Regions from separate parts of the Homo sapiens genome. Here region 2 is linked to region 1. The links come from fine-mapping of genetic effects on gene expression. Tissue or cell type: whole blood. Region 1 holds a variant in brackets; the other region holds the start of a gene. All regions are shown on one strand. Distances are between the middles of the regions.

Region 1 (5,611 bases):
AAATAGTAATAAAAATAGTGGGGAGAGTGCCTGTGAGTAGCATTTGTGGCGTTGCTTGGCTTTATTGCTAGAACTTTCTCTTGGTGTTCTACATGTTTTGGTCTGTGAGACCCCTCTGGGGGTGGTGTCCCAGCTGTCTTCCAAATGTTTCCCCCTTTTCCTCGCTGTCTTTCTCCTGGATGGTTTAGTCCCCTCTGTGTTTCTTGTCATCTCCTTCCTGCCTCCCCCCGGGGTCAGACTTATAAGGCCAGAGAGGTGGGCACTGGCCTGAGCCAGAGGAAGGAATTGAACTTTGGGATGACAGGGAGCTTTAGGAGAGTTTCAGCCTGGGAAAGACAGGGCAAGCTGGTGTGTGGGACAGACACAGCGCAAGCCGGCTTGTGCCTGTGGAGGCTGCAAGGAAGCCCTGGGCCCAGCCTGGGGCACGGGGAAAGCCCCCTACAGCTGGCTTCTAACTTGGGTCTCAAGAATCGATCAGGCGCACAGCTGGGGCAAAGGCTGGAGGTGGGGCTGGCTGAAGGCTTCAGGACTCTGCTGGGCCAGTGTCAAGGTGACAGCAGGCTCTGGGAAGGAAGGGTCCTGAGGGTGGGCAGCGGGAAAGGACATGAGGACCAGCGTGTGGGGGTCCTGAGGGGTGAGCAGAGGGTTTGGACATGGCCCCGTGGGCTTCCAGCAGGGGATTTGGGGCTGAATATTGGGACGTCCCCTCTGGGGTGTGTGGGGACTGCCTGTCCTTGCAGGCCCCGGCCTCAGTTTTCCCACCTATCCCCCACTCCATTGCAGGAAGGTGCTCGGGTCTTCGGGGCACTGGGTCCCATCGGTCCCTCCTCACCTGGGCTCACCCTCGGGGGTCTGGCCGTGAGCGAGCACCGGCTCAGCAACAAGCTGCTGGCTTGGAGCGGCGTCCTCGAGTGGCAGGAGGTGAGTCTCTGTGGGGCTGCGGCTGGCCTCCAGGGTCTTGTCTTGTCCCTGCGGGGACAGGCCAGGGCATCTAGGCTGTGCACAGTGACGCCCCTCCTGCCCCCACAGAAGCGCAGACCCTACTCTGACTCCACTGCAAAGCTGAAGCGGACCCTGCCCTGCCAAGCCTACGTGAACCAAGGCGAGAACCTGTGAGTGCCGGGGCGTGGCAGCCAGGGCGGTGGCAGGGGCAGTGGCTGTGGCCGTGGGGATCAGGGCAGCCCTTTCTGACCAGCTCCTTCCCATAGGGAGACCGACCAGTGGCCGCAGAAGCTGATCATGCAGCTGATCCCTCAGCAGCTGCTGGTGAGACCCGCCCCTCCCACCCCATCCACTCTGAGCACCCCCATGCCTGGCTGACCCAGCTGTCTGTCCTGTCGCCCCCAGACCACCCTGGGCCCCCTGTTCCGGAACTCCCAGTTGGCACAGTTCCACTTCACCAACAGAGACTGCGACTCGCTCAAGGGGCTCTGCCGCATCATGGGCAACGGCTTCGTGAGTGGGGCGGGCTCCCTTGTAGCACTGTGGTGACAAGTACAGCTGGAGGCAGCGCTCTGCTCACACAGTCCAGGCGGGGGTCGGGGGGTCTCCCCTGGGGCCGAGGGTA[G/C]CCCTCGTGGCCTCTCGGACCCCATCTGGAAATGACTGACTCCAGGCACCCTCCGTAGAGCACAGGGTGAAGGAACTCAGCCTGAGAGGCCTCCAGTTTCTGCATCTGTGCCCAGCTTCGAGGTGGCCCTGGGGGCGTGAGTGCAGGGAGGGACTGGGGCCAGCCCTGTTGGGGCCCAGGAGCCTGTCGGGGACACATAGCGTATGGCAGGGACCTGGTAAATGGGTGTGCTAGGCACAAGAGCCAGCCAGGAGGGAGTGGCACGTTGGGGCTTGGTATTCTGGTCTGTAAAATGGGCTAACCTCCCCGAGTGGCCTGAGCTGGCCGTGAGGGAGCAGAGCTGAGGGTGCTGAAGCAGGCGCGGTGAGTAGGTCCTCAGGCCTGGCTCCAAGGGGACCCAGGTATCCAGCCAGTGGCTGTGCAGGGACTGAGTGGGGCAGGCGCGGCCATGACCTGGACCCGGGGGGCTGCCAAGGGATCTGAGAGCGGCTTCCGCAGCACTCCAGGGTTGGGCTGGTTGAGGGGTAGAGATGACATTTTCTGAGGTAGGGAGGACAGGGGAGCCGTGCTTCCTAGGGCCACCGGGAGGCTGGAGGGAGGGAATTTGTGTAAAGCGCTTGAGATGGTGACTTTAGTACCTAGTGAGTGCTGGGTGAACCCAGCTGGTGAGGCTGTTCAGGTGACTGAGATTCTGGCGCAGGGCAGGTCAGAAAGGGGGCTTGGGCTGTGAAAGATGGCAGGTGCTGGAGAGGAGGCAGGGGTGGGGTGGGAGCGAGTTGTCTGCCCAGAGGACCTGGCTCTGGGACATTCCCAGTCCCTGTTCCCTGTTGGGACAGTCTGCCTCTACCCGTCCCAGCTGCCGTTGAGCGCCCTGGGTTCCGCTAGGGCCTCCCTTCTCCCTCAGGAGACCAGGGGCAGACCAGGGCTTGTGCCTGGCATGAGGTCTCTTAAGTGACCCGTTCCCCCTTCACCCAGCACCGTTTGTTGAGGGCCTGCCATATCTGGGCCCCGAGTACCCAGTCTGTAGGGAAAGTGGACATCCATACTCACCCCCCAGGCATGGCCCTGGGAGGCTGACTGTGCATGGCTCCAGGGAGGCCAGGGACAGGGCCCTGAGCGGGTGATCCCTGGGCTGGACACCAAGGTTGAGAAGTTAGGCCGGCAGCGTGGAGGGGACAGCACTGTGGGGGTGGCCCGGTGTGGGGAGGGGACATGGGGTTTTGGGACGGTCACACCACTTCATCTAGACACCACAGCCAGGCACATCTGTCAGGCTTAGTTCTCCCATGCGCCATCCTCAAGAGGCACCAGCACTTTATCTGTTGAGCCTTTATGTGGCACCAACTGTGTGCACTATTACCCGGTTTTACAGATGATGGAGGCCCAGAAGCAGGAGGTGGCTGGTGTTAGGTCACACAGCTAGGAGGCAGCAGAACGGTGGGGCGCTGCCTGTGCTCTTAACCCCCAGGCCAAGTCACCCCATCAGGCAGTCAGGAGGGCTGGCGGCAGGGGGTGATGTGGGTGGGAGGTAGTGCCTTCTTGGCATTCTCACCGCAGCCTGGGTGCCGGGTGCCACTCTGACCTCAGCCATGGCAGGGTCGGGGGATGCCGATGGGCGCTGCACGGGCTCTCAGAGGCCCCTCACCTATGGCCATGGCCTTGACTGTGGGGGCCTCTGTCCACCGATGATCTCCCTTCATCCCCTACAGGTGGGGCGGTCCAGGGTGGTGGGGGCACAGTGGCCCCGGGCAGTGACCACAGGGTCCTGACCCGCGGCCCCCGCAGGCGGGCTGCATGCTGTTCCCCCACATCTCCCCCTGTGAGGTGCGCGTGCTCATGCTCCTGTACTCGTCCAAGAAGAAGATCTTCATGGGCCTCATCCCCTACGACCAGAGCGGCTTCGTCAGTGCCATCCGGCAGGTCATCACCACCCGCAAGCAGGTGTGCCAGCCAAGCACAGCCCCTCTGGGGACAGAGGGGGATTAGACCCCACTGCCCTGGTTGGGCAGCCAGACTTGGTGTGGGCGGAGTGTGATGCGATGGCTGGAGCAAGGAGCTGCAGGGGAGCCCGGAGGATGCCGGGCGGGTTCCCACCAGGGCTCCATGGAAAAGCGGCCACTGGGCGGCTCTGCAGGGCTGGAGGGTGGGTCTTGGCGCGGCGGCAGGGAAGCCAGCGGAGCGGGGAGCTGGGCAGGGGTTGGGATCGTCCTGCGGCTGGAAGGCCCTGCCTGGTAACCACGTGTCCTGGTCATGCCTTGCCAGTTGAGGCAGACTCTGCAGGTCCTGTGCACCAGGTGAGGGCCGGGACCTGTCTCAGGCCACTGGGGAGCCATGGGGGGCTGTGAGCAGATGAGGGGCAGGGCCTGTTCCCCTGGGACTAGAGAATGGACCCAGCTGGGGCTAACAGGCCAAGGCTCGGAGGGAGGGATGGCAGGCCCCAGGACAGACAGACAGGTTTCCCAGGAGCCTGGGCCCCTCTTCCCACCCCGTTCCCTTCCAACAGGCAGTGGGACCTGGTGGTGTCAACTCAGGCCCAGTCCAGATCGTCAACAACAAGTTTCTGGCATGGAGTGGTGTCATGGAGTGGCAGGAGGTGAGCACTCGGCAGCCCAGGGACTTGGGACCCCCAGATCCTCACGGACTGTGGCTGGGAGGGGACACTGGCATTGGGGGTCTCCAGCCCTGAGGGCTCCTCTTTGCCTCTCCCCCAAAAGCCCAGGCCTGAGCCCAACAGTCGGTCCAAGAGGTGGCTGCCATCCCACGTCTACGTGAACCAGGGGGAGATCCTGTGAGTGCTGGGCTGGGGGGTGGAGGCAGCATCCAGGGGAGCTGGGGCTTCCTGACCCTCGTCCCTTTGTGCCCCACAGGAGGACCGAGCAGTGGCCAAGGAAGCTGTACATGCAGCTCATCCCGCAGCAGCTGCTGGTGAGGGGCTGGGGCCGGGTGCTGGAGCCTGCACGCAGTAGCTCTTCCAGAGGGCGGGGCTGGGGGCAAGAGCGCCTCCCCAGGTGGCCTGAGCTGGCTGTGAGGGAGCGGAGCTGAGGGTGCTGAAGCAGGTGTGGTGGGTAGCTCCTCAGGCTTGGCTTCAAGGGGTCCCAGGCAGCCAGCTGGTGGCTGTGCAGGGACTGAGCGGGGCAGGGGCAGCCACGACCTGCACCTGGGGGGCTGCCAAGGGATCTGAGAGCGGCTTCCACAGCACTCCAGGGTTGGGCTGGTTGAGCGGTGGAGATGACGTTTCCTGAGGTAGGGAGGACAGGGGAGTCTCAGTTTGGTCCTGGGCCCGGGGGACTCAGCGGGCTGGGAGCCGGGAGGCCGTGGTGGGAGAAGCCAGAGCTGGGGGTCCCCTCGCTTCCCCGCAGACCACCCTAGTGCCGCTGTTCCGGAACTCGCGCCTGGTCCAGTTCCACTTCACCAAGGACCTGGAGACACTGAAGAGCCTGTGCCGGATCATGGACAATGGCTTCGTGAGTGGTGCCAGCAGACGCAGGGGAGGGGCCGGCCAGGGCAGAGCGAGCCCGGACCGCTCACGGGGGCGGACATGGGAGAGGAACAGAGCACCATGTCCCAGACCAGCTGGGGAGAGAGGGTGGCTAGTGTGGGCGTGACTTCTGGGGGCTCTGTGCTGTCCCCACGGCACTGGATGGGGCACTGACCCTGGTTCTGCGGGGGCCTGCTCCTCCTCTGCCACATCAGGGCTGACTCAGCACCAACTCCGCGCTCTCCACTCCTCAGGGACAGGCGCCCTTGTCACTCCTGGTTTCCCGGGAGCTTGTGCCACATCCCAAAGGCCCATTGCTGGGCAGGGAGGGCTGTCTGCCCCCAGCAAGGTCCCAGAATATTTGGCGATTGTCTTATCTGGGGGAGGCTCAGCTGACTCCTCTTCTCTCTCTCGGGCTCAGTTTCTCCATCTGTGAGGTGGAGAAGGTTGGACTTTGGTGTTTCTGAGCCCTCCCCCCGATGTCCACCTTCCAGCTGGGCCATACTTGGGTAATATCCCGAAACTACCTTAAAATTACCTTCGACTCAGTCTGAGTAAACTGTCCA
Region 2 (5,782 bases), 38 kb before region 1:
AGTGCAGTGGCGCGATCTCTGTTCACTGCAAGCTCCGCCTTCCGGGTTCACGCCATTCTCCTGCCTCAGCCTCCGGAGTAGCTGGGACTACAGGCGCCCGCCACCACGCCCCGCTAATTTTTTTTTTTTTTTTTTTGGATTTTCAGTAGAGACGGGGTTTCACCGTGTTAGCAAGGATGGTCTCGATCTCCTGACCTCGTGATCTGCCCGCCTTGGCCTCCCAAAGTGCTGGGATTGCAAGCATGAGCCACTGCGCCCGGCCTGTTTTTTTTGTTTTTTTTGTTTTTTTTTTGAGACAGTCTCGCTCTGTCGCCCAGGCTGGAGTGCAGTGGCGTGATCTCGGCTCACTGCAACCTCTGCCTCCCGGGTTCAAGCGATTCTCCTTGCCTCAGCCTCTCGAGTTGCTGGGATTACAGGTGGGCACCACGACGCCCAGTGATACTGACCTCGTGATGCGCCCGCCTCTACCTCCCAAAGTGCTGGAATTACAGGCATGAGCCATCTCGCCCGGCCGAAGATTATGTTTTAAAATATTTACTGGCCATTCAAAATTTTGTGTGTGTGTTTGTGTGAAACTAGTCAGGTTTCTTTTTATTTATTTATTTTTATTTTTTTTGAGACGGAGTCTAACTCTGCCGCCCAGGCTGGAATGCAGTGGCACAATCTCAGTTGACTGCAACCTCCGCCTCCCGGGTTCAGGAGAATCTCCTGACTCAGCCTCCCAAGTAGCTGGGATTACAGACGCCCACCAGGACGGCTAATTTTTTTATTTTTAGTAGTTAGAAGGAGTTTCACCATGTTGGCCAGGCTGGTCTTGAACCCCTTACCTCGGGTGATCTGCCCGCCTTGGCCTCCCAAAGTGCTGGGATTACAAGCGTGAGCCACGGCGTCCGGCCCTGGTCAGGTTTCTTTCTATTAAAACAAATATAAAGTGGCAGGGCACGATGGCTAACACCTGGGATCGCTTTAGCCGAGGAGTTTGAGACACGCCAGAGCAACACAGTGAGACCCCATCTCTACAAAAAATTTAAAAATTAGCTGGAAGTGGTAGTGCGCGGCTGTGGTCCCAGCTGCTCCACAGGCTGAAGAGTGGCTCCAGTGCGAGTAGAGGCTGCCGTGAGCCAAGATTGGGCCACTGCACTTCAACCTGCACAACAGAAAGAGACCCTGCCTCAAAAAATAAAAATTAAAATTAAAAGATAATAGTAATGAAGTGTTTCTATTTTTCTATATTGTTATTCATCAGTAAGATTTATTTGCGTAGTACATTTCTGTCAACAAACACGCTAGAAAGATTTTCCCAGTTGGCCGTATATTTTTCAACTTGGTTTATACAGTCTTTTGGGAAAAATTAATGAAGACTACGTTTTCTAACTTTGCTGTAGTGCTAAGAAACTCCATGGCAGTCATTAAGATTTTTTCCCTTCAGATAGTTTTCGGGTTTCATTTGTTGCACTTACATTTTTAATCCACCTGGAATGTATTTACGTTCTAAGCCAGTTTCTGGCTCCTCTCCCAGAAAACAACGCTCAGGTGTTGCTTAGCAACCCGCACTTGGTTTGGTGTTCGGCTTCTTTTCGGGGGGGAAAACAACTGCCCTCCCTTCCAAGTTGAGGACGACCTTAAAGCGTCGCCTAGTAACCTCGTTTCCGCCGATGTGATTGGATCCTTCTCGCGTCCCTCCCCTAGTCCCCACGCCCGAAAGAACAGAACCAGAAACTTAATCTAACGGTTACAAAACAAGGGCAGCGGGCCCGGCGCGGTGGCTCACGCCTGTAATCTCAGCACTTTGGGAAGCCAAGGCGGGCGAATCACTTGAGGTCAGGAGTTCGAGAACAGCCTGGCCCACAGGGTGAAACTCTTTCTCTACTAAAAATACAAAAATTAGCGGGGCGTGGTTGCGGGCACCTGTAATCCCAGCTACTCGGGAGGCTGAGGCAGGAGAATCGCTTGAACCCGGGAAGCGGAGGTTGTAGTGAGCCGAGATCGCGCCACTGCACTCCAGCCTGGGCGACAGGGCGAGACTCCCGTTTCGAAAAAACAAACAAACAAAAAACAAAACACAAAAACGAAAACAAGGGCAGCGTACGCGTTGCATAGCAACCAGGTCTCCTGCCCCTCCCTTTGAGACAAGAGGCGGACCTGGACGCCCCGCTCAAAGATGGCGGCTGACTGAGCCGCTTTCAATTTATTTAGCTTTTGACAATAATTCCGTCTAACCCATCAGGCCCCTAGAAGGGCTAACTATGCCCTTTCTGAGTCTTCCACGCGGTGGGGGCGAAGGAGGATGGAGCTAGAACGAAGCCTCAGCGCGTGCCCCGCACAAACATGGCAGCATTCCCAGCAGCCCTAAACCGCCCGACGCGAGCGCGCGCGCGGCGCAGGCGCATTTCTGCTCATTCCGCGGCGTCGGCTGCGGCTGCAGTGGTGGTGGCGGGTACCGCACGGGGTATGGTCCCCGGGTCCGAGGGCCCGGCCCGCGCCGGGAGCGTGGTGGCCGACGTGGTGTTTGTGATTGAGGGTACGGCCAACCTGGGACCCTACTTCGAGGGGCTCCGCAAGCACTACCTGCTCCCGGCCATCGAGTGAGTGCTGTTTCCGCGACTCTAACCCCGCCCTCCCACTTCAGTTTCGCACAGTTTCTTGCCTGACTCCGACCTTTCACTTCCTACCCTCACAGGTATTTTAATGGTGGTCCTCCTGCTGAGACGGACTTCGGGGGAGACGTGAGTCTAGGGACTCCTGGGCCTGAGGGAGGAGGGGCCGGGGGCCTGGACTCCTGGGTCTGAGGGAGGGAGAAAGGGCTGGGCCTGGACTCCTGAGTTTGAGGGAGGAGGGGCTGGGGGTCTGGACTCCTTGTTCTGAGGGAGGAGGGCCTGGGGGCCTGGACTCCTGGGTCTGAGGGTGGAGGCGCTGGGGCCCGGATTCCTGGGTCCGAGGGAGGAGGGAGCTAGGGGCCCAGATCCCTGGGTCTGAGGGAGGAAGGGCTGGGCGTCTGGACTGCTGGGTCTGAGAAAGGAGGAGCTGAGGCCTGGATTCCTGGGTCTGAGGGAGGAGGTGCTGGGGCCTGGGCTCCTGGGTCTGAGGGAGGAGGGGCCGGGGGCCTGGATTCCTGGGTCTGAGGGAGAAGGGGCTGGGGCCGAGATTGCTGGGTCTGAGGAAGGAGGAAGCTGAGGAGTTCCTGGTTCTGGAGGAACGGGAAGCTGGGAGCCCTGATTCCTTCTCTAAGGGAAAAGGGAATTGAGGTCCCAGATTAAAAGTTTTCTGTCCTCCCCTCCCAGTATGGGGGGACCCAGTACAGCCTCGTGGTGTTCAACACAGTGGACTGCGCTCCCGAGTCCTACGTACAATGTCACGCTCCCACCAGCAGCGCCTATGAGTTTGTCACCTGGCTCGATGGCATTAAGTGAGCTTTCCCCCACTTGGGGTGGGTTGCTGGTCCCTGTGAGGGGCCGTGAATGAGTGATGGCTTGGGGTGGTTGGTGTCCCCGTGAGAGGCTGTGAATAAGTGATGGCTTGGGGTGGTTGGTGTCCCCGTGAGGGGCTGTGAATAAGTAATGGCTTGGGGTGGTTGGGGTCCCTGCGAGGGGCCGTGAATGAGCGATGGCTTGGGTTTGAGCTGCAGGAAACATCTCATACATTAAGGGATTGAAAGGACTTTGAGGGTGATTGTGTTTTTGTCAGAAGTCACTTTTGTGGTGGCTTCTGTGTGCTCAGCAATGTTGCCATCAGTTTAGAAGTAGGAAAAACCTTCCCATTCAGGGAGGCCTGGCTGAGCTCCAGCAGCCACCTTGTACTCCCTGTGTGATTGTCCCCTTTCTGTCCTCTCTTTTTCCGTCTACCCCTGTCCTCCTTTTCCAGATGGGTACATTGTAGCCTCAGTGCAGGGGGATGGGTCAGAGCCAGGATAGATCCCTCTGTGGCTTGGGTCAGAATTTTTTTTTTTTTTTTTGAAACAGTGTCTTGCTCTGTCTCCCAGGCTTGTAGTGCAGTGGCACAGTCGTGGCTCACTGCAACCTGTACCTCCTGGGTTGAAGCGATTCTTCTGCCTCAGCCTCCCAAGTAGCTGGGATTACAGGCACACGCCACTATGCCCAGCTAATTTTTTTTTTTTTTTTTGTATTTTTAGTAGAGACAGTTTCACTGTGTTGGCCAGGCTGGTCTCAAACTCCTGACCTCATGTGATCTGCCTGCCTCAGCCTCCCAAAGTGCTGGGATTATAGGGGTGAGCCACTGTTGCGGGATTCAGGACGACAGGAGAGAGCCCTCGGGTTAAAGCAGGAGAATCTTTCATTGAGTGCACTCAGGCCCAAGCCGACTCACGTCCAAAGACGGCCCAGAACAAAGGTAGCACTTGACTTTTATACACACTTCACAAAAGGGGGTGGGCTAGCTTGAAGCAAGCTTACAGTGGCGTGACAGCAGGGATACAGAGGCAGAACAAAAACAGTTAATCAAATTGTTGTAACAGGTTTATAACTCAGGATTGCACATAACCGTTGCTATGCAACCCAGATGTCCCTTATCTAGGTTAGCCTAGGCACGGGCTTATCCCATAACCTTCACTGTGGTGCCCAGGCAGCTCAGGCTTCTCATGACCTTCGCTGTACTTCTTAGATAAAACAGAATACTTGAAGTCATGAGTTACAGAGAACAGGAATCTATAAACTCATTCCATAAAACAAAGGAAAATTTGTTTTTTCTTCTCTCTATGTTGAGGGAGTGCTGGGAGAGTCTCCAAGAGCACTTTAGATAGTATTATCAAGACTTTTCCTGGGTCTGGGCTGTGCCCATTGCTGCCTCTCAGACAAGTCAGCCTAATACATAGAACTTATTTCTCTTTTTAATTTTTTTTCTTTAATTTCCTGCCTCACCACCACGCCTGGCGCTGGATCGGATTTTGATAGTTGACATTGTAGAGTCTGGAGTCAGGCAGACGGGTTAAATCCTGGCTCTTCCAGCACAGAACTAACTCTCAGACCCAGGAGTCTGTCCCCTCTGTGCCTAGTATCTCACTTGTGAAGTGGGGATGTGGATAGTACTTGTATTAGTATTTCATTGTATTACTTATTCTTAGCTGTATAATAGATTACCACCAAATAATGGCTGCATACTGCAAACATTTATTATCTAACGCAGTTTCTGTGAGTCAAGGACACAAGAGTGGCTTGGCTGGATGGTTGGGCTGAGGGTCTCACAAGGCAATAGTCAGGAGGTCGGCAGGATTGCAGCCATCCAGGGGTTTGACTGGTGGTGGGGAATCCGTTCCCAAGGTGGCGAGTCTGTGGCTGTTGGCCACAAGACCTCTCCACAGGGCTGGTTGACTGTCTAACATGGCAACTGGCATTCCTCAGATTGAGGGACCCAATAGAGAGAGCAAAGAGGAAGCCCCAGGCCTCTCTTGTTTTTGAGGAAGGGTCTCACTCTGTCACGCAGGCTGGAGTGCAGTGGCTCAGTCACGGCTCACTGCAGCCTCGACCTCCTGGGCTCAAGCTCAAGCGATCCTCCCATCTCAGCTTCCCGAGTAGCTGGAGTAGCAGGGACGGTAGCCAAATGCCAGCACACCTGGCTGATTTCTTAAAAATATTTTTGTAGGTCGGGCGTGGTGGCTCACGCCTGTAATCCCAGCACTTTGGGAGGCTGGGGCAGGTGGATCACCTGAGGTCAGGAGTTCGAGACCAGCCTGTCCAACATGGTGAAACCCTGCCTCTACTAAAAATACAAGCAATCATCCTGCCTTGACCTCCCTAAGTGCTGGAGTGCTGAAATTACAGGCCTTAGC

The links. PIP is the estimated chance that this variant, and not a neighbour inherited with it, causes the effect.
Region 2: it holds the start of MED25, and the variant in region 1 is fine-mapped to the expression of MED25 in whole blood (TOPMed, PIP 0.97).

The regions. Positions count from the first base shown.
Region 1 is chr19:49,853,623-49,859,233 of GRCh38, forward strand. PTOV1 (PTOV1 extended AT-hook containing adaptor protein) reads left to right here. Exons shown (of 12, transcript NM_001394010.1): 2 at 784-921; 3 at 1,030-1,112; 4 at 1,209-1,266; 5 at 1,348-1,455; 6 at 3,353-3,508; 7 at 4,071-4,160; 8 at 4,282-4,355; 9 at 4,435-4,492; 10 at 4,927-5,031. It overlaps MIR4749 (microRNA 4749), which reads left to right and starts at 969; the gene lies at 969-1,029. It overlaps PTOV1-AS2 (PTOV1 antisense RNA 2), which reads right to left. Exons shown (of 5, transcript NR_110730.1): 1 at 5,584-5,611; 2 at 5,221-5,475; 3 at 4,932-5,004; 4 at 4,725-4,805; 5 at 2,843-3,450. RefSeq lists enhancers at 317-376, 2,561-2,620, 2,651-2,700. The variant G/C (reference allele first, on the strand shown) is at 1,568.
Region 2 is chr19:49,815,891-49,821,672 of GRCh38, forward strand. It overlaps MED25 (mediator complex subunit 25), which reads left to right and starts at 2,399. Exons shown (of 18, transcript NM_030973.4): 1 at 2,399-2,585; 2 at 2,681-2,726; 3 at 3,282-3,406. The coding sequence starts at 2,452. RefSeq lists an enhancer at 1,958-2,317 and silencers at 2,355-2,521, 2,448-2,607.